Linked DNA regions of Homo sapiens: region 2 is linked to region 1. Evidence: fine-mapped expression QTL. A gene starts in region 1. The other region holds a variant in brackets. All regions are shown on one strand. Distances are from middle to middle.

Region 1 (10,163 bases):
CAAATAAAATTATATCCAGCCGGGCACAGTGGCCCACACCTGTAATCCCAGCACTTTGGGAGGCCGAGGTGGGCAGATCATTTGAGGCTAGGAGTTCAAGACCGGCCTGGCCATCATGGTGAAACCGTACCTCTACTAAAAATACAAAAATTAGCCAGATGTGGTGGCAGGCACCTGTAGTGCCAGCTACTCGGGGAGGCTGAGACAGGAGAATCGCTTGAACCCGGGAGGTGGAAGTTGCAGTGAGCTGAGGTCGTGCCACCGCACTCCAGTTTGGGTAAGAGAGCGAGATTCTGTCTCAAAAAAAAAAAAAAAAATTACACCTAATACCAGGCTGGGTGCAGTGGCTCATGCCTGTAATCCCAGTGCTTTGGAAGGCCAAGGCAGGAGGATCACTTGAGGCCAGGAGTTTGAGACCAGCCTCAGCAACATAGTGAGACTTGTCTTAAAAAATTTTTTTAATTAGCCAGGCATGGTAGTGCATGCCCGTAGTCCCAGCTATTCCAGAGGCTGAGGCAAAAGGATCACTTCGGCCCAAGAGTTCAGGCTATAGTGAGCTATGATCATGCCACTGCACTCTAGCCTGGGCAACAGAGCCAAGACCCTGTCTCAAAAATTTATATCTAATATCCAGGAACATATCTTCTATTCTACAGATACCAAGTTAAAATGAGGATATAAATATCATAAATTCCAAAAGAATTGCTTGGTAGAAACAGACAAAAAGTGACTTCTTATGAAAGTTGTGTTAGTATTAACTGGTTCTGAAAGGCTGCGGTGGCACAGCCAGGGTCCCAGCTGCAGGAGGCTTCCCAAGTCCCTGTCGCTGCCCTAACTCAGCAGTGCTGAATCTCACAGCCAGGAGCTCCCACCTTCCCACAAGGCCTGCCCTGCTGCACCTCTGGGAGAAGAGCCCACCAACATGGGGCATCCGCTGCTGCCTCTGTGGTTCCAAGTCAGGGGATCCTTCTGGCAAGGAAACACATTCCTGGAGCCAAGGTGCCACCTCTTTTTAACTGACAACACATCAGCAGTCTCTCCGGGAGCCTGGCTCCCGGAGAGCTGACTGTCCCAGCACCTGTCTGCATCACTGCACGTAAGGAAAAGGCCCCACCAAGTGCTTCCGTTAGGTGCACGGCCAGAAGTTGGCACAACCTGTGAATCGCTGGTTTGGGCACCATATGGATACGGTCAAGAAATCACCACAGACTAAGTGTGACCATATTAAGGAATTACTAGTGATTCTTCAGTGTGAATCACTATCAGAGTTGTTTTTATTTTTTAATTATTTTTATTTTTATTTATTTTTTTGAGACAGAATCTCCCTCTGTCGCCCAGGCTGGAGTGAAGTGGCACGATCTCGGCTCACTGCAACCTCCGCCTGCTGGGTTCAAGAGATTCTCCTGTCTCAGCCTCCCGAGTACCTGGGATTACAGGCACACACCACCACGCCTGGCTAATTTTTTGTATTTTTAGTAGAGACGGGGTTTTGCCACGTTGGCCAGGCTGGTCTCGAACTCCCGACCTCAGGTGATCTACCTGCCTCGGCCTCCCAAAATGCTGGGATTACAGGTGTGATCCCACACCTGTAATCCGGCACCCGGCCGGAGTTGTTTTTAAAGTATTCTCTAGAGCTATCCATTCATGTGTTTATAGATTATTTCTAGATTAAATTCATGATGTGAGAGATTTGCTTCAAAATAATCTGGGGATTTGGAAGAAGGTGGTGAGGACGCAGGAAGAACTGGCTGTGTGCTGGTGATGAGGACAGGACGGTTCGTTACATTGCTCTCTTTGTGTGTGCTCAAAAAAATTCCATAATACACTTCTTAAAAGAGAGAAGAAAAAAAGAGATCATCACACCAGATTGGCAAAACAATGTCAACTTCTGCCCAAAATACACAGCTCTGCAGGTATGCAGGAGAACAAGCAGTGGCCTTTAAACACCCAGAGGACATTTTCCTTGGGAACAAAGCCCTAACTAGTTGGCTCAAAAAAAGTCCCAAGGAAGAAGCATAAGCGATAGGTTTTGGCCGTCCCCAGAAACAGGCACCCGAGCATCCCCTGTGAGAAACAGGCACCCGAGCCTCCCTGGGAGAAACAGGCACCCGAGCCTCCGTGGGAGAAAAAGAATGTGTGCGACTCACAGAGGGCTCACCTCTCTCAAGCCCATCGATGTTCTGCGTGTAGAGCCGCAGAAGCAGCCCCTTGTCATGAAGCAGCCGGAGAAAGTAGTGAGTGACGTTGGGCTTGTAGTTTCCAGGGTACAGCTCCTTGGCCAAAGTGAAAAAGGGCTTGGGGTTGTGAAAGAAGAATGGGAGTTCAAAAATGGCCTCGGGGTACGGGAGATCGTACTGCTGGAGGTTGCTGTACAGGCCACTCCCCGGCGATCTGCAGGGAGAGAAGAAAGGCTCTGAGGCCTTTGGAAGAGGACAGGGAAGTGGAATAAACTGGGCAGTGGGGAGGGCAGGAGTCAGGGGAGGGGAGCGCAGAAGGCAGGTGGGACTGTGGGCAGTACCTGAAGTCTGGAATGCCACTGGGTGTGCTGATGCCGGCCCCCACCATGACCACCACCCTCTGGCAGGCTCTGGCCCGAATCAGCTCAGCTACATCCTGCAGGGAAAGCTTCCCCTTGTCACTGCTGCCTCCACTTCCAACAACACTTGAAGCACCCACAGAAAAAGATATGGACCTTCTTCCACCTTTAATACTGACAGAAAAAAACACAGCAGCAAAGGAAACAGATAGCAACCAATCTCAGGATAGCAAGAACGAGCATGGCTCTGCCCTCTGCACCACCGCCACCCTCGAGAATGAGCATGTGTGTCTCCCCAGGCCTCTCAAAATAATCACCTTTCTTAGACGACTATTGGGGTACAACAAAAAGCAGTCATAAATCAGAAATCAAGACTTACTTGGGAGCAAAAAATTCAGGTTAATGGGAACTGTGCTCATTTCATAATTCAGTACACTCAGTAGGCACTCAACTCTGACTGACTGCAAACCTCCAAAGGGGTCTCCTAATGAAAACTGGTTAAGGAGTCAAGAAGCAAAGAGGGAAAACCCTGGTTCTAAAACCATCTCACCACCTATTAAGCGCCCCACTTCACACAGCATTTCAGACATCTATTCACTTAAGGTCGTTCCCCAAACAGCTACTGTGCTCCTACTAAACACGAACTGTTAAGAGAAGCACAAAAGGAATGAAAGTTATTATTGCTGTTGAGTGCCTGCTGAGGGCAAGGTATCACGAAGGGTGCCTGAGTACATTCCTCATTTACGTAAATAAAATGTTTGTGAGTCACTGAAAAACACATAAACGGCGTTTTACCAAATGTCTGGAACATACGTAAGATGTATGGCTTAAAGTACATGCTGCATGGTGTGAAATTCACTGGGAGTGGGGGACCCTGAGGGGCAGGCATGGGTGCAACCTGGGAGGGACACTGTGCAAAGGACACAAACAACAAATTCAGAGAGCTCAAAAATCCAAAGCCAAACTGGAGGAAGCCCATGCAATGGACTACTCCTCACACGCAGCCCTATGCCTCCTGCTTTAGGGCCAGTGGTAGCAAGGATTTTTGTTTTGTTTTGTTTTGTTTTGTTTTGAGACGGAGTCTCGCTCTGTTGCCCAGGCTGGAGTGCAGTGTCGCGATCTCGGCTCACTGCAAGCTCCGCCTCCCAGGTTCACGCCATTCTCCTGCCTCAGCCTCCCGAGTAGCTGGGACTACAGGCACCCGCCACCACGCCTGGCTAATTTCCTTGTATTTTTAGTAAAGACGGGGTTTCACTGTGTTAGCCAGGATGGTCTCGATCTCCTGACCTCGTGATCCGCCCGTCTCGGCCTTCCAAAGTGCTGGAATTACAGGCGTGAGCCACCGCGCCCGGCCGCAAGGATTTGTTTTAACAGTTTTGCAGAGTATCACAGATATTAGAATGCGCTCCACGTGTTTGTAGGTCCTGGTCCCTGCTCCATCCATAGCACCTAGAACAGAGTCTGGCACAGAATAAGAGCTCAGTCAGGGCTTCTTGGATGAACGACTGACTCTTCGGGATCTTTGTTTTTTTTTGAGACGGAGTTTTTGCTCTTTCGCCCGGGCTGGAGTGCAATGGTGCCATCTCGGCTCACTGCAACCTCTGCCTTCCGGGTTCAAGTGATTCTCCTGCCTCCGCCTCCTGAGTAGCTAGGATTACAGGCGCCCGCCACCACGCCCGGCTAATTTTTGTAATTTCAGTAGAAATGGGGTTTCACCATGTTGGCCCAGCTGGTCTCGAACTCCTGACCTCGTTATCCACCCGTCTCATCCTCCCAAAGTGCTGGGATTACAGGCGTGAGCTACCGCGCCCGGCCAACTCTTCAGGATCTATTAAACTTTTTTCTTTTTTTTTTCCCACAGGTAGATAAGAGTCTTGCTCTGTCACCCAGGCTGGAGTGCAGTGGCTCAATCATAGCTCACTGCAGCCTTGAACTCCTGGACTCAAGGGATCCTCTTGCCTTAGTCTCAGGAGTAACTGGGACAACAGGCTTGCGCCACCATGCCCGGCTAATTTTTAAATTTTTGGTAGAGATGGGGGTCTCGTTATGTTGCCCAGGCTGCTCTTGAACTCCTGGCCTCGAGCGATCCCCGTCTCAGCCTCCGAAAGTGCTGGTATTACAAGTGTGAGCTACCACTTCGAGACTCACTTTTCACCAACATTTTCAGCAGTTGTGTCAGACAGCAAGTCAATGTGCCATTATTTACTTAAATATTCATCCATTATAGGGCATCTGATACCTAACAACCATGGACCTTAAGATTTTTTCCTATGTAGCCTCAGTTCTTAGATGCAATTACTATGGAGACGGGTACGATCACATGCCAGTGGGAGTATTAACCGCACAACATTTATGAGGGATCATTAAAGCGTTAAATGCATATACTTTTGGACCTAGCAATCCCAGTACTAGGAATTTATGCAAACAGTGAGGTGCCAACAAGGTTATTCACCACAGCATGATGCACAATAACTAAAGGTTAGAACGTATTTCAATGAGGGAATGGTGAAATAAACGACAAAACCCCCATAAGTGACGTCCACAGATCAGCATAAAGACGGAGGCCCCGGTGTTGGAACGCACGTAAACTCCCAGACATGCCGCAAAGGAAACACGGCAAGGTGAGAAAGAGTGGGCGAGGTGTCGACAACGAACACGCAAGAAGTGCTTGTCCTTGCCCAAAATACCTCGAAAAGAAGAAACTGGGAGCTGCTGCCCTCGGCTGCCTCCGGAATGCCCTGGGCACCTCGGGTCTGGGAGGCCTCTGCAAGGGGCGCGCCGGGTCCAAGGGCTCACCGCGGGCCCCATGGCTGCCTCTCAGCCCCGCACTCACATCGTCCCTGCCGCCAAGCACCAGCCGACAGCCGCAGGCCTGAAACGGCCCCACGCCTCCCCCGGCCTCGACCCGTTCAACTACCCGGCCCCACAGCCGGAGGGCTGCCGCGGCGCGCCAACCCCAGAACGCCATGTTCCGCGCAGTCCAAGGAGTCCTCCGGACTCGCCCCGCCCCCGGCGCCCCGGCCCCGCCTCCGCCTCCCACCCCCGCCCCCGGCGCCCCAGCCCCGCCTCCGCCTACCGCCCCCGCCCCCGGCGCCCCGGTCCCGCCTCCGCGCCCCGCCCCCGCCTCCTTGCCGACGCCTCCGGCGCGCCCAGGTAGACGTAGAGGCGAGTAGAGGAAGTTCCCTAGTCTGGTGTCTCATCTCTCGCCCCGGAGGTCAAACCTGGAGCCAGCATTTCTGTACCCTGCGCTCACACCTTTTTCAACCCGGATGGCGGTGATAGTTAATACTTTCTGAGCGCTTTTACTATGGTCAGGCATTATATTTACACCTAATCCTCGCAAAACACTACTGGGAAGATCCTCATTTGACAGGAGCAATTCCGGGTCACAAAGGCTGACACCACAAAGCTAGTCCGTAGCGGGTTCGACCACAGGCGCCCACACTCTTTGACGCCTCAATGGCACAGCCAAGTGCGCGGGAAGTGGGCTGCAAACGCCGGAGAGTTTTGTCCGGAGCGCAGAGACGCGCTGTAACCGAGCAACCAGCGGGGCCCGCCCCCGGCCTGCTACGGCGCTCCCAGCCTGCCCCGCGCCGCTCGGCGCCGGAAGTGAGTGAGCATTTCCGGCAGCCATCCCCGCGGTGCTGACATCCCGGTTGTTCTTCTGTGCCGGGGGTCTTCCTGCTGTCATGAAGGACGTACCGGGCTTCCTACAGCAGAGCCAGAACTCCGGGCCCGGGCAGCCCGCTGTGTGGCACCGTCTGGAGGAGCTCTACACGAAGAAGTGAGCGCCGAGCAGACGGGCCCTGGGCCCCGGCGATAGAGGGAGACGGAGGGGGCAGGCGGGCGGAGGAGCGGACCCTTGATGGGCTGAGGGCGCCCAGACCCAAGTTGGGGGGAAACGGGGACGTGTAGCGACCGGCTGTGCCGGCAAGGTTTGCTGAGGAACCTTGAGTGGCAGGGTCGAGGAATAAGAGGGATGACAGACCACGAGGGCCAAGAGCTGTAGCCAGGATGTTTCGGTCTGAGATTCACTGCTTCCTTAACGGGGGACTGAGACTGAGGCTTCTGAACTCCTACCTCGGGTCTTACTAAAACGGTTCAGGAGTAGCCTTTGATTTTAGCTCTTGATTCCATCTAACAAGCAAACACACTTTCAGGGCCACCACCCACTTTGGGAAACATGTTGGTGATTCGTGCTTAGCCTTGTCATAGTGTAACTGTATCTACAGTTATCTTTCTCATGGTCTGGAGTTGATAAACCAGAGGCTAGTACAGCTTTGCTGTTTTCCCTATTCATTCTGCAGCTGGTTGCACGGGGTGCAACCACTTCCGCCGTCCCATTGTCTTTACCTTCCATTGTATTTCTCATGGGCTTTCTGCCCCTAGAAAGATCTTAAAGTTTAGGTTTGTTTAGAAACAGGATGAATTGCAGAGCAATTAAATTCTTGCTAAGCACTAACCTCCTTTTAATATGAGTAGAATAAATTGCTGGCATTGGGCTGGAGCTATTCCATAGAAAATACATCTCCTGTAGTAACCTCCCTGTTAACCCTAGCATTTAATATAATACCTTTCACATAGATGTTCCATACATGTTTTGATGATGTTTAGCATTCAGCAGCCTTCTGCTATTAGCAGTTTTTGAGAGCAAATTAATGTTTGGCAAATAATGGTTTGTGTTGGATAGCACTTGGTAATTTTCAAAGCATTTTATCTGCGTTATTAAATATTAGCCTTTGGGTTTTGGATGAAGCGCTATGTCACTGTCCCTGAGGTTTTAAATATTAGCTTATTTAATCCTTTATTCATCCTTTTCACAGAGGAGGAAACTGAAGCTCATTTTAATTGCCTTCCCTGAGATACTCAGCTAATAGGTAGAAGAGCCAGCATCTCAAGTTAGATATGTATGATTCCAAAGTTCTCGTTTCCAGTGAAACCTCACAATAACCCTTTGAGTTAATCTAGATTAATGTTCTCCATTTCATACCTGGGAAAACTGAGTCTTAGAGAAGTTAAGTGATCTCAAAGTGACATAGCCATTCAATAGCAGAGCCAGGAAAAGAACTCAGGTTTATCACATCTGCTTTAGCATTCTTTCTGCTACACCGTAGAGACTGGTTAGTATGGATTTAGTATCCCTTATCAGAAATGCATTGGGGCGGCCGGGCGCAGTGGCTCATGCCTGTAATCCCTGCTACTCGGGAGGCTGAGGCAGGAGAATCACTTGATCCTGGGAGGCAGAGGTTGCAGTGAGCCGAGATGGCGCCACTGCACTACAGCCTGGGCAACAGAGTCAGACTCTGTCTCAAAAAAGAAAGAAAGAAATGCATTGGGGCAAAAGTTTTTTTGGATTTAGTATTTTTTCAAATTTTGAAATATTTGCGATATATACTTACCCGTTCAGTATCCATAAATCAAAAATCTGAAATCTGAGATGCTCCAGTGGTCATTTCCTTTGAGCCCTATGTTGGTGCTCAAAAAGTTTTGGATTTTGGAGCATTTTGAATTTTGGAGTTTTGGAGTTTTGGATTAGAGATACCCAACCTGTATTTGTGACTTGATAGAATCATCAAGGCTGGAGGTGTCTGTGACTGGATATTAGGTTAGAGGTCTTAAGGGCTGTATGTTTTTCAGGTTGTGGCATCAGCTGACACTTCAGGTGCTTGATTTTGTGCAGGATCCGTGCTTTGCCCAAGGAGATGGTCTCATTAAGGTAAATAATTTGCTATACCAGATTAGATTATATGAATGTGCTCAAGGACTTTTGAAAATAAGATAGGCTTTATGCTAATAATAATAATAAGCTCCAATATTCAGCAGTCACTTTACGTCAGGTACTGGTCTGAGCGCTTCACATATCCTTCATGACAACGCTGGTCAGTAGATACTACTATCTCACTTTTTTGATGTAGAAGCAAACATAAGACTTTAAGTAACTTACCATAGATCACTGCTGATAAGTGGCAGAAGAGGATTCAAACACTGACATTCTGGCTTTTTTTGAAATTCTAGCATAAAGTATTATCTTACAACATGCCTAAGTATCTTAGTTCATAGGCTTCTTTTTAGTACTCTAGTTTTAGAAACAAAGTTCAAACCCAGTTAGAGGGTGGAGTAAGGTATGAGGAAGATTACTATCTGTGGGAATCTTAGATAACTTCCATCACTCCCCTTCTTTAAGCCGCACTGCTTGCTTGCCCAGACACTTCTGTCCTGGGTAGTGTGGAAAATAAAACACCTTTTGTACTTCGGTTGAGGGTAGGTGGATTGGAGGGAGAGTCCTGTATAGTGTCATGCTGCCTCTGTAATAGAGGACTTTTAGAATTTTTTCAGCAGTAGACAAATACGCACCTTCTTTCCCAGCCTTCCCCAGATCCCCTGACACATCCCCACGAATTTGCTCACTGGTAGCCTCCTCTTTGAAGTTTTTCCTGACATCTTACTCTATGATGGCTTTCTCTGATTCTGAATGAATCAGAGATTCATACCAGCATTGCAACTGATAGCTTATAATTACATTTTGAGTCATTTCTCCTGAATACATTACTTTTATATGCTCGCAATAGAGCTTACCACCTTGCTACCCCACCACCTGGGCTTGTAAGATTTTCTTGTGGTTTATAGCCATCAATTTGACATTTTACTATTCAGAGGAACTTACAATCATCTGTAAGCCTGGAGATTTTGCTGAACATTCAGTCTTCTGGATTATGTGGGAAAATGATAAATGAGACCTGCTTTTTTTTTTTTTTTTTTTTTTTTTTTGACGGAGTTTCGCTCTTGTTGCCCGGGCTGGAGTGCAATGGTGCGATCTTGGCTCACTGCAACTTCCACCTCCCGAGTTCAAGCGATTCTTCTGCCTCAGCGTCCCAAGTAGCTGGGATTACAGGTGCCCACCACCACAGCCAGCTGATTTTTGTATTTCTTAGTAGAGATGGGGTTTCACCAGTGTTGGCCAGGCTGGTCTCAGACTCCTGACCTCAGGTGATCTGCCTGCCTTGGCCTCCCAGAGTGCTGGGATTATAGGCAGGAGCCACTGTGCCTGGCCTGAGACCTGTCTTAATACTTGTTCCCTAAGGTTCTAAATCATCACGATAGATGATTCATAATTGTTTATCTCTGTCCTTTGGTTTCTTATCTTTAAATCACTTTTCTACACATGACAAAATATTTCCTCAACCTCATGGTAAGGTGATGTTTATTTAGGTTGGCAGATCTGAGTTTACTTTTCCCATAGACAGAATAAACCTTTAAAATTTGTTGGGATCCAGCTAGCATAAGTGTAAAATGGATAGTATTTTTGAATTTATAGTCACCAGAAGTAATTTTGACTTTCTGGACTTAGTGGGCTTCTTTTTTAAGGTAATTTTTTAGATTAATACATGTCAGGAAAGTTCAAACATTTCCTTCTAATAAGGAAGATATCTTTGAAATAGTCTTTTGTAATAAAAATGCCATTTTATTTATTTATTATTATTATTTTTTGAGACGGAGTTTCATTCTTATCACCCAGGCTGGAGTGCAATGGCACAGTCTCAGCTCACTACATCCTCCTCCTCCCGGGTTCCAGTGATTCTCCTGCCACAGCCTCCAGAGTAGCTGGGATTACAGGCACCCGCCACCA
Region 2 (10,163 bases), 49 kb before region 1:
CACAAATTAAATTATTTAGGATGTGGAAGTATATAAGGACAAAATACAGAGTGCAACCAAGAATCTAACTGTATTACCAATGTATGTTGCAAGTGGTGGGCCAAAGGTGCTGAGCTGGAAATGAGTAGAATCCATAGACTAAAAACAAAACGTACTATATACACGAACAGTGGACTCTATTTTATAAAGTTATTTCCCATAGGGATAATAGTTAATTTTGAAACTACTATATCTGTAAAAAGAAAAATAACCATGATTTTCCTCTATACTATCAACACTCCACTTTTAACAGCAAATTGTGGGGGGTGGGGGGTGTTTCCCATACCAACCAATATTCCAACTCTCTGGAAAACAATTGGGTATCCTGTAATTCAACTGTGACACTGATTACCTGGAGTTAGTATACACCCTACAGGTTAAGGGCTTAGTAACACCAGACTGTCCACAACCTCAGATGCCAATCACAAGTTGTGAATCCCCAGTTTACCCAAACTTCTATATGACTTGGCTAGAAACTAGGCATTCCTACACCCCCTCTTCAGGTTTGACAATTTGCTATGATGGCTTATGGAACTAGGAAATACTTACTTATGTTTACTAGTTATTATGGTCTCAATGTGTGTACACCCCCACCCCAAATTCCTATTTTGAAATGTAATCCCCAAAGGGATGGTATTCAGAGGTAACCGAGAGGTGATCGGATCATGAGAGTGCTGTCCTCATGAATGAAACCAGTGCCCTTATAAAAGCATCTAGGAGCCCGTTTCCCCATTCTGCCATGTCACGACATGCTAGAAGGCACTATCTATGATAGATGAGCCCTCACTAGACATCAAATCTGTCAGCCTTGATCTGGAACTTACCAAATTCCATATTTTAGGAATTTTTATGGAAGCTTCATCATGTAGACATGACGGATTATTAACTCAATTTCCAGTCCCTTCACACCCTCAAAGGATTGCATGTTAAGCTAAAAGTCAGAACCTTCTTATCATGGCTTGGTCTTTCTGGTGACCATCCCCATCCTGAAACCATCCAGGAACCCACAGAGTGTCCTTATTAGAACAGAAGCCATTCCTATTATACAGGAGATTCCAAGAGATTTAGGAACTCTGCGTCAGGAACCAGGGCCAAAGACCAAATATTAGAACACAAGATGCTCCTAGCACCCCTACTGTTCAGGAAATTATAATAGTTTTAGAAGCTCTGTACCAGGAACTGCAGACACAGACCAAACATATATTTCTTATTAAGTCCCAACCTGGAATCTTGATCAAGAATGAATTCCTTGTTCCCAATGGTACAGGGGATGAAATAAATGGCAGATAGTAGGAGCCAGGTTCCTCACTATTACAGCGAGAAGTTACAGATAAAAAATAGGGAAGCCTAGAATGATCTCTGTCATAATGAGTCAGAATATATATATACAACGTAAGTATAAACTCACATTTAGCTTAACATATACATAGATGGTTCCACATAGAAACCTTTATAATTAAGTGGGTACATATAAGTTAGAAGACACACATATATTTCTTTGCACTGTCAGCTCTAAGTGTCATGATGCAATGACCACATTTAGTGGCCAGATGTAAGTTTTTCATACCATTCTCTAACAAAAGAAATCAGGGCTATTAGAAGAAATAGCTGAAACTAGGACTGGGACAGAAAATATATGAGCCAGGGTACTTTTGAAGTAACAGAAATAAATTATAAAAAAAAAACATGAAATTATGTAAAAGGAGCCAGTGGAAAGAGCTACCAATGGCCACAGGTATGAACAAAGAGCAACAAAATACTGTACAATTAGATAACAACCAAAAGATTAAAGTAACTATCTGTGGACCCATACTGGTATAAATAAATGATTAAACAGATATGCAAATGGACTGAATAGAAATCTCTTACACAGAAGAATTCCAAATACCTGATATAGACAGCCATCAAGGAGGTGGGGCTAACTCCCCACTCCTTTAAGTATGAGCTCTGCATGATGACTTCCTCCAAAAGCATACATACAATATAGACATGGGAAAAAAGTAACTTCACAGTGAAAAACCTGAAAACACTGCCTCAACCAAGTGATAAAAGTTAACATTAATGGTGATAACACATCTTGAGAGCATGAAGTGACTAGACTAGCACTTGCAAACCAAAAATAAAATTCAAAGATCTTTCCCACAACCACCTCTCCACCAGGGGACACCAAAGTTAACCTGGAAGACTGGTTCAGGCTATGATGGGAAAGAGGTGGTCAGACATGCCTCATTATGCCCTCCTCCCTTTTGGAATTCAGGAAAAGCCAATCAGCATTTAACATCAACACAACCTTAAATCTGATAAGAAACATTTACAATCTATTCTCTCTGAAGCCTGCTACCTGGAAGCTTCATCTCCATGATAAAACCTTGGCCTCCATAACCCCTTATCATAACCCAGACACTCCTTTCTATTGATAGTAAGTCTTTCAACAAACTGCCAATCAGAAAAATTTTAAATGTACCTATAACCTGGAAGCCCCACCCCCCAACCCTAATCCATTGGGTTGTCCCACCTTTCTGGACCGAACCAATATATATCTTAAATACACTTGATTGATGTCTCCTATCTCCCTAAAATGTATAGAACCAACCTGCACCCCAACGACTTTGGGCACATGTTCTCAGGGTCTCCTGAGGGCTGTGTCAAGGGCCATGGTCACTCATATTTGGCTCAGAATACATCTCTTCAAATATTTTACAGTCTTTGACTCTTTTTGTGGACACACTACACATCTGCTCTGCTTCCCCCAAACCCCTAAACCCAGGCTGATTATGAGAAAAACCCCAAGTAAACCACAATGGAGGACATTCTACACAATACCTGACCAATCCTCCTAACACTGTTCCAGGTCCTCAGAAGTAAAGTCTGAGAGACTGTCACAGCCAAGAAGAGCCTGACATGATGACTAAATGTCCTATGGGATCCTAGATAGGATCCTGGGAGAGAAAAAGGCAGAACTAAGGGAAACCAAATAAGATGTGAGCTTATTTAATAATATAGTAATATCCAGTCATTAAGTATGACAAGAAATGATGTAAGATGTTGGTCAGGAGTGGTGGCTCATGCCTGTAATCCCAGCACTTTGGGAGGCTGAGGCGGGCAGATCACCTGAGATCAGGAGTTCGAGACCAGCCTGGCCAACGTGGTGAAACCTCATCTCTACTAAAAATACAAAAATTAGCCGGGCATGATGGCAGGCGCCTGTAATACCAGCTACTCAGGAGGCTGAGGCAGGAGAATCGCTTGAACCTGGGAGGCGGAGGTTGCAGTGAGCCGAGATCACGCCACTGCACTCCAGCCTGGTTGAAAAAAAAAAAAACCTGGTCTGGAAAAAAAAAAAAAAAAAGATGTTAAACCTATCTGATACATGTTGATATGTTAAAAAGAGGGGAAACTAGGTTGCGTCTACATGGGAAATCTGCATTTTCTTCCCAATTTCTGTATGAATCTAAAACTAATTTAAAATAAAACCTCTATTTAAAAATTGTAATTTTTTCAGATATCTGCTAAATTATTTGTACTAAAAATTAGTAATTGACAGTAACTACTCCTACTTTTAAAAATAAGAGCATTCATGATACTGCAAAGTAAATTATACAGACTAATATATACTTTCAAAGAAATGCCCCTTTTACATGTTTTATGTTAAGATAACATATATGTGTAAACATGGTCATATCATTTTTCTTATGGTGTAGTTCACTCTCTAAGAAAGCTGGTCATCTTAGAACCAGGGAAAAAAATTCACATTTTGGAGACTATTTCAATTTACGGCTGGAAGTTTTCAAAGTATGACTTTGTGAAAAAAAAAAAAGTTCAAATTGATTCATTGTGACTGGATCACTTATTCTAATGAATGCTTGTCTTTATTTTGTTTCCCAGCATTCCTTTCAGCTACGATACAACAGAAGCAAATATTTGCCACTGGAAAAAATATTCAAAGACACTCTTAGGTTAATCTATAGCTGATGACAGTCAGTCTAGTCTACATAGCAAGCAGCTTCAAGATATGATTACTTAGCTAAGAGGGAAATGGGACGTGACTGCTGCCTCATTCCCACGCCTCTCTGGACCTGATAATTTAGAGGAAGCTCACATTCGCAAGATAAAAATTTTCTTTTCTTTCTCAGTATTAAATATGCTGTCACAGTAGAAGAAAGCTTTACTGACTTCTTAAATGATGTGTTGAGACCGGAAACCTAAAATGATAGTTACTGAGAATACTGCTAATGCCCTAAGACCGGAACCCTAAAATGATAGTTACTGAGAATAGTGCTAATGCCCTAAGACCGGAACCCTAAAATGGTAGTTACTGAGAATACTGCTAATGCCCTAAGACCGGAACCCTAAAATGATAGTTACTGAGAATAGTGCTAATGCCCTAACACCGGAACCCTAAAATGATAGTTACTGAGAATACCGCTAATGCCGTAAGACCGGAAACCTAAAATGATAGTCACTGAGAATACTGCTAATGCCCTAAGACCAGAACCCTAAAATGATAGTTACTGAGAATAGTGCTAATGCCCTAAGACCGGAACCCTAAAATGATAGTCACTGAGAATACTGCTAATGCCCTAAGACTGGAACCCTAAAATGATAGTTACTGAGAATACCGCTAATGCCCTAAGACCGGAACCCTAAAATGATAGTTACTGAGAATACCGCTAATGCCCTAAGACCGGAACCCTAAAATGATAGTTACTGAGAATAGTGCTAATGCCCTAAGACCGGAACCCTAAAATGATAGTTACTGAGAATACCGCTAATGCCCTAAGACCGGAACCCTAAAATGATAGTTACTGAGAATACCGCTAATGCCCTAAGACCGGAACCCTAAAATGATAGTTACTGAGAATACCGCTAATGTCCTAAGACCGGAACCCTAAAATGATAGTCACTGAGAATAGTGCTAATGCCCTAAGACCGGAACCCTAAAATGATAGTTACTGAGAATAGTGCTAATGCCCTAAGACCGGAAACCTAAAATGATAGTTACTGAGAATACCGCTAATGCCCTAAGGTTTTAGTCACACCCTCACCTAGGCAGGAACCCAACCAAAAGGGGAGAACTGTGGAACAAACTACGGGAGGTCATTGTTTCGGTCACCACTCCCGCACTAGGCCACACTGAGCAGGCAAAA[T/C]CAGAATGGAGACACTCACGCTGAATGACACACAACGAAGCTGAAACTCTAAGGAAGTAGATAGATCCCAAAAGAGCTCCCTTTTTCCCTGAAGAGATTCCAGTCTACCTGAGTCAGCATAAAGAAGTCCCCTCTGCTTTAATTCTTACCAAAACAAGTAACTTGAAGTAATCTGATATTAACAAATCAGTTGTTATTTTCTATTGCTCTATTTCCGCCTTACACAACACAGTGTTCTGCTATTGCCCAGAGGGCACTGAGACCAAATAAAACTTGAAAATGCCACACTGAAAGCAAATAAGTCCTAATAACTCAATTTACAACGACAACAAAGAGTGACACCAATGCCCAAAGTTTTGATCAATATCTCAAAATTGAGAGGCTGACCAAAAGGGAGGAATTCTTACATCAAACAACATTTGGGCTCTGGAAGCCTCCCGAGGAGTCCTTGTAAAGAGTCGCGGCCGGGCGCCGTGGCTCACGCCTGTAATCCCAGCACTTTGGGAGGCCGAGACGGGTGGCTCATGAGGTCAGGAAATCGAGACCATCATGGCTTACAAGGTGAAACCCAGTCTCTACTAAAAAAAAAAAATACAAAAAAATTAGCCGGGCTTGGTGGCGGCAGCCTGCAGTCCCAGCTACTCGGGAGGCCGGGACAGGAGAATGGCGTGAACCTGGGAGGCGGAGCTTGCTGTGAGCTGAGATCGCGCCACTGCACTCCAGCCTGGGCGACAGAGCGAGACTCCGCCTCAAAAAAGAAAAAAGAAGAAGAACAAGAAGAATCGCAACCTAATTTAGTATAGAAACAAACTGAAAATCTGACTTGGGAATGTATCATGGTAACAAATAGCGGCGGTTCAGCCAATCACATCAGCCGAGTGTCAGTCAATGGCCGGCAGCCAGCTGTTCAAAACAAGTTCCAAGAAGGCAAATCCGGGCTGTAACCAGGTCTGTAACCAATCCAGCCACCTCTATACCTCACTTCTGTTTTCTGTATGTCACTTTTTTCCTCTGGCTATAAATATAACCCGCACATGTTGTGTGGCAGATCATTCTGAACCATTTTTGGTCTGGACTGCTGCCTGATTCTAGAACCACAAAAAAAAGCCAATTAAGATCTGCAAACCCACATTTGTTGTAATTCTGTATTTTAACAGTTGTGCCCTACAAAAGACATTAAGCTGAAATTAATTAAAAATCATTTACGGTCATGATTAGGTCATAAAAAATTGTCAAACATAACAATTCTTCAAAAAAAGCTAAAAAGTATATTTTAAAAATATTGTTGATGGAAAAAAGAGTGCAAAAGTAGATAGGAAAATTATGTACAAAACTAAAAACAGAGGAGAAATTAAAAGTCAAATAATTGCATCAAACTGGAAACCTAGAAAAAATGGGTGATTTCCTAGTAAAAATACACATTAACAAAATGGGCCCTGAAATAAGGCAACTATGAATATACCAATTAGCATAGAAAAGCTAAGAAAGGTCCTTAAAGATCTCCCAGTGGAAAAAGGCCCCAGGACCATCTGGGTCCATAGCTTAGTGTAAGCTGACTTAACTAAATGTGATTTTACACTCGTGCATTGCATACATATGATGGTGGTCCCATGACATAAAAATGGAGCTGAAAAATTCCTTCCTAGCCATCTTGTCATAAGCTCATGGCTCAACGCATTACCTTTTCTCTGTTCTGATACCATGAAAGGAAAATAAATCTCAGGACCCCCAAATCACTAAGCCAAGGGAAAAGTCAAGCTGGGAGCTATGTCAGGCAAACCTGCCCTCATTCTATTCCTAACTAAGATAGCTACAAAGATAAAAAGCTACATACCTCACTCACAATTTGCCCACAAAGAATTTCCTTTTGGACAAAGGACAGACAGCACTCAAAGTCATCCCTCACCTGAGACAGATGCATATCTGATTGCTTCCTCTGCCCTATTATTTATGTAAAAATGCAGATTCATTGAGCCAGACTAAATTGTGTATTCAGTGGAAGGCTGATGAAGGATTCAAAAGAATGCAACCTTTTGTCTCTAACCTACTTCTGACCTGGAAGCACCCCCACTTCCTGCTTCCAGTTGTCCCGCCTTACTGGGCCAAATGACTGTACATCTTACACGTCTCATGTATCCCTAAAATGTACAAAAGCAAGCTCTACCCTGGCCACCTTGGACACACGTCGTCAGGACCTCCTGAGGCTGTGTCATGGTCGTGTCCTTAATCTTGGCAAAATAAGCTTTCTAAATTGACAGAGACGCGGCGCGCCGGCGCAGGCGCACAGAGGCGCGGCGCGCGGGCGCCGGCGCACAGTGGCGCGTCCCCTGGGGGGCGGGGGGAGGCGCGGCGCAGGCGCAGAGACGCACGTCGTTAGGCTGTGGGTTTGGGGGGAGGTGGGTGGTGCAGACGCAGAGTCACGCGCCACCGGGACGAGAGCGCGGGGGTGGAGCGTTGTAGGCGCAGAGACGCACGTCCTCGGGGGCGCGGCGCAGAGACGGGTTGAACCTCAGTAATCCAAAAAGCCGGGCTCGGGCGCCCCCTGCTTGCAGCCGGGCACTACAGGACCCGCTTGCCCGCGGTGCTGTCCCAGTGCGCCCCCTGCTAGCGACTAGGGCAACTGCAGGGCCCTCTTGCTTACAGTGGTGGCCAGCGCCCCCTGCTGGCGCCGGGGCACTGCAGGGCTCTCTTGCTCGCAATATAGTGGCGGCACGCCGCCTGCAGGCAGCTAGGGACGTTGCAGGGCCCTCTTGCTCACAGTGTAGTGGCAGCACGCCCGCCTGCTGGCAGATGGGGACACTGCCAGGCCCTCTTGCTTGCAGTGTAGTCGGGGCACGCCCTCTTCTGGCCGCTGGGGGCACGACAGGATCCTCTTGCTCACAGTGTAGTGGCAGCACGACCCCTGCTGGCAACCAGGGCACTGCATGGTCCTCTTGCTCATGGTGTGGTGCCCGTACGCCGCCTGCTGGCAGCTGAGGACACTGCAGGGCCCTCTTGCTCACAGTGTAGTCGTCGTACGCCCCCTGCTGGCAGCTGGGGACACTGCCGGACCCTATTGCTGTCGGTGTCGTGGCAGCACGCCACCTGCGGGCAGATGGGGACTAGGCAGGGCACTCTTGGTCCCGGTGTGACGGCCTCCTGCACCACTAAAGTCAGAGCGCCAGTTATTAAGCCCCATCAGTTCTGTAAATTCAAACTGAAACGGAGCTATTATTGGGGAGAGCTGATGTCCCAGTTCTTGTTTAACTTGGAAGAAACATTTTCACCAAGAGGCAATACAAAGATGGCAGATAACTTCATTGAAAAGAAACACAGTGTAAAGAGTTTATTGTAGAAAAATAGGGAGGAGTGGGCTGAGCGTGCATTAAAACAGCCTAAGAGTCCTGTGCAGGGAATTTTATTTTGGATTTCTTCACATTCCTGCCTCTGTCTCAAGTCTCCACCTGTTTTCTTTGTCTGGTTTTCCTGCTACTGCCTTAGCTCCCCAACTTGCCCCACTTAGGCTTGTGGGACCTCCTCACTGTTGGTTGAGGTACATGTGTGGTGATCAATACGAATCCACTCTGGCACCAGCCTCCTTCCCGCCATCCCAGGCACACTGACAGCGATCACGTTTGTACCTACTGCGCCTGCCTCTTTTGAATGTCCTTCTCTGCCCTAATCTGTACTTATGGTGCCAGGTTTCTCTTAAGAATGTCCCCTTTGGCCTTATCAGCATGTAGCTAGCAATATTCTGACATTTTTATTGCAGAGTGAATGATTGGGGCATCTTCAGAGGAGTTCTAGGGTGTTTCTTTCTGCATAGGTACCTCTTTTCCCTCCTACCCACAATTGACAAGTGCCCATCCACTCCAGCACTAGAGATGCTACTAATATGTGAATTTTTGGTGGTCCCTCCAGGTGAGCCTTCCCAGACTTTCCCTTTTCCAGGAGGCCCCCTCCTGTTCATGTCTAGCTACCTATCTACTCTAACAAAGCCCACTATCCTGTGTCTTTCCCAAAAATAGTGAGGGAACGATTAATTGGAAACCATAAGAAATGATATGGATATAGACGAAAACTTTACAACTTACACAAATAATCACTCAAAATCATCCTTACACTAAAAATGCAAAACTATACAATTTCTAGAAGAAACAATAGAAGAAAAGCTATCTGCCTTTGGGTTTGGTAATGAATTTTAACAAATGACACAAAAGGTAGATATACACAAAAGAAGTGACAGTGTGGATTTCTTAATATTTAAAGTTTATACTCTGGAAGAGACCTTGTTAAGAGAACAAAAAGACAAGCCACATATTGAAGAAAATATTTGCAAAATACACATCTGAGAAAGAATTTGTCTTCAAAATATATAAAAAATTATTAAAACTAAACAATAAGTTAAACAGCCCAACTAAAAATGCACACACATCTGAACAGACACCTCACCAAAGAAGATCTACAGATGGCAAGTAAACACATTGAAACCACAATGTGGTTACAATTGAAAACCACAATGAGATAGCACAGCTGGTCTATATCTGTTAGAATTGCTAAACTCTTTTAAAAATGACAAATTGCTGAAGGAAAAACAAGAACTCTTTTCATTGCCAGTGGAACACAGCGTATAAGACCAAAATACGCCACCCCAAAACCTAACCCTAACCCTAACCCCTAACCCCTAACCCTAACCCTAACCCTAACCCTAACCCCTAACCCCTAACCCTAACCCTAACCCTAACCCCTACCCCTAACCCCTAACCCTTACCGGTGACCCTACTGTATCCCTGACTCCTAACCAACGTTGATCCCTAACCCTAAACCCCTTACTGTAACTATAATCTTCATCCCACCCTATCCCTAGCCTTAGTGCCATCCCCCAGGCTTTTTCCAGGATGGGATTTTATGTGATTGTTTCGAATAGGTGGAAATCTCTGCTCATTTAGGAGTCGTTCAATGTAACAAGGATCTTGGTCTTCACAGAGACCCTAAACG

The links. PIP is the estimated chance that this variant, and not a neighbour inherited with it, causes the effect.
Region 2: its variant is fine-mapped to the expression of SIRT3 in thyroid (GTEx, PIP above 0.99).

Annotation. Positions count from the first base shown.
Region 1 is chr11:230,825-240,987 of GRCh38, forward strand. It overlaps SIRT3 (sirtuin 3), which reads right to left and starts at 5,518. Exons shown (of 7, transcript NM_012239.6): 1 at 5,224-5,518; 2 at 2,519-2,710; 3 at 2,159-2,391. The coding sequence starts at 5,504. PSMD13 (proteasome 26S subunit, non-ATPase 13) reads left to right here and starts at 6,152. Exons shown (of 13, transcript NM_002817.4): 1 at 6,152-6,320; 2 at 8,174-8,252. The coding sequence starts at 6,226. RefSeq lists a silencer at 5,584-5,663 and enhancers at 5,814-6,003, 6,164-6,403.
Region 2 is chr11:181,978-192,140 of GRCh38, forward strand. It overlaps a transcript of SCGB1C1 not described here. Among named protein-coding and RNA genes, the nearest start is that of SCGB1C1, 6.0 kb to the right of the region's middle. The variant T/C (reference allele first, on the strand shown) is at 5,187.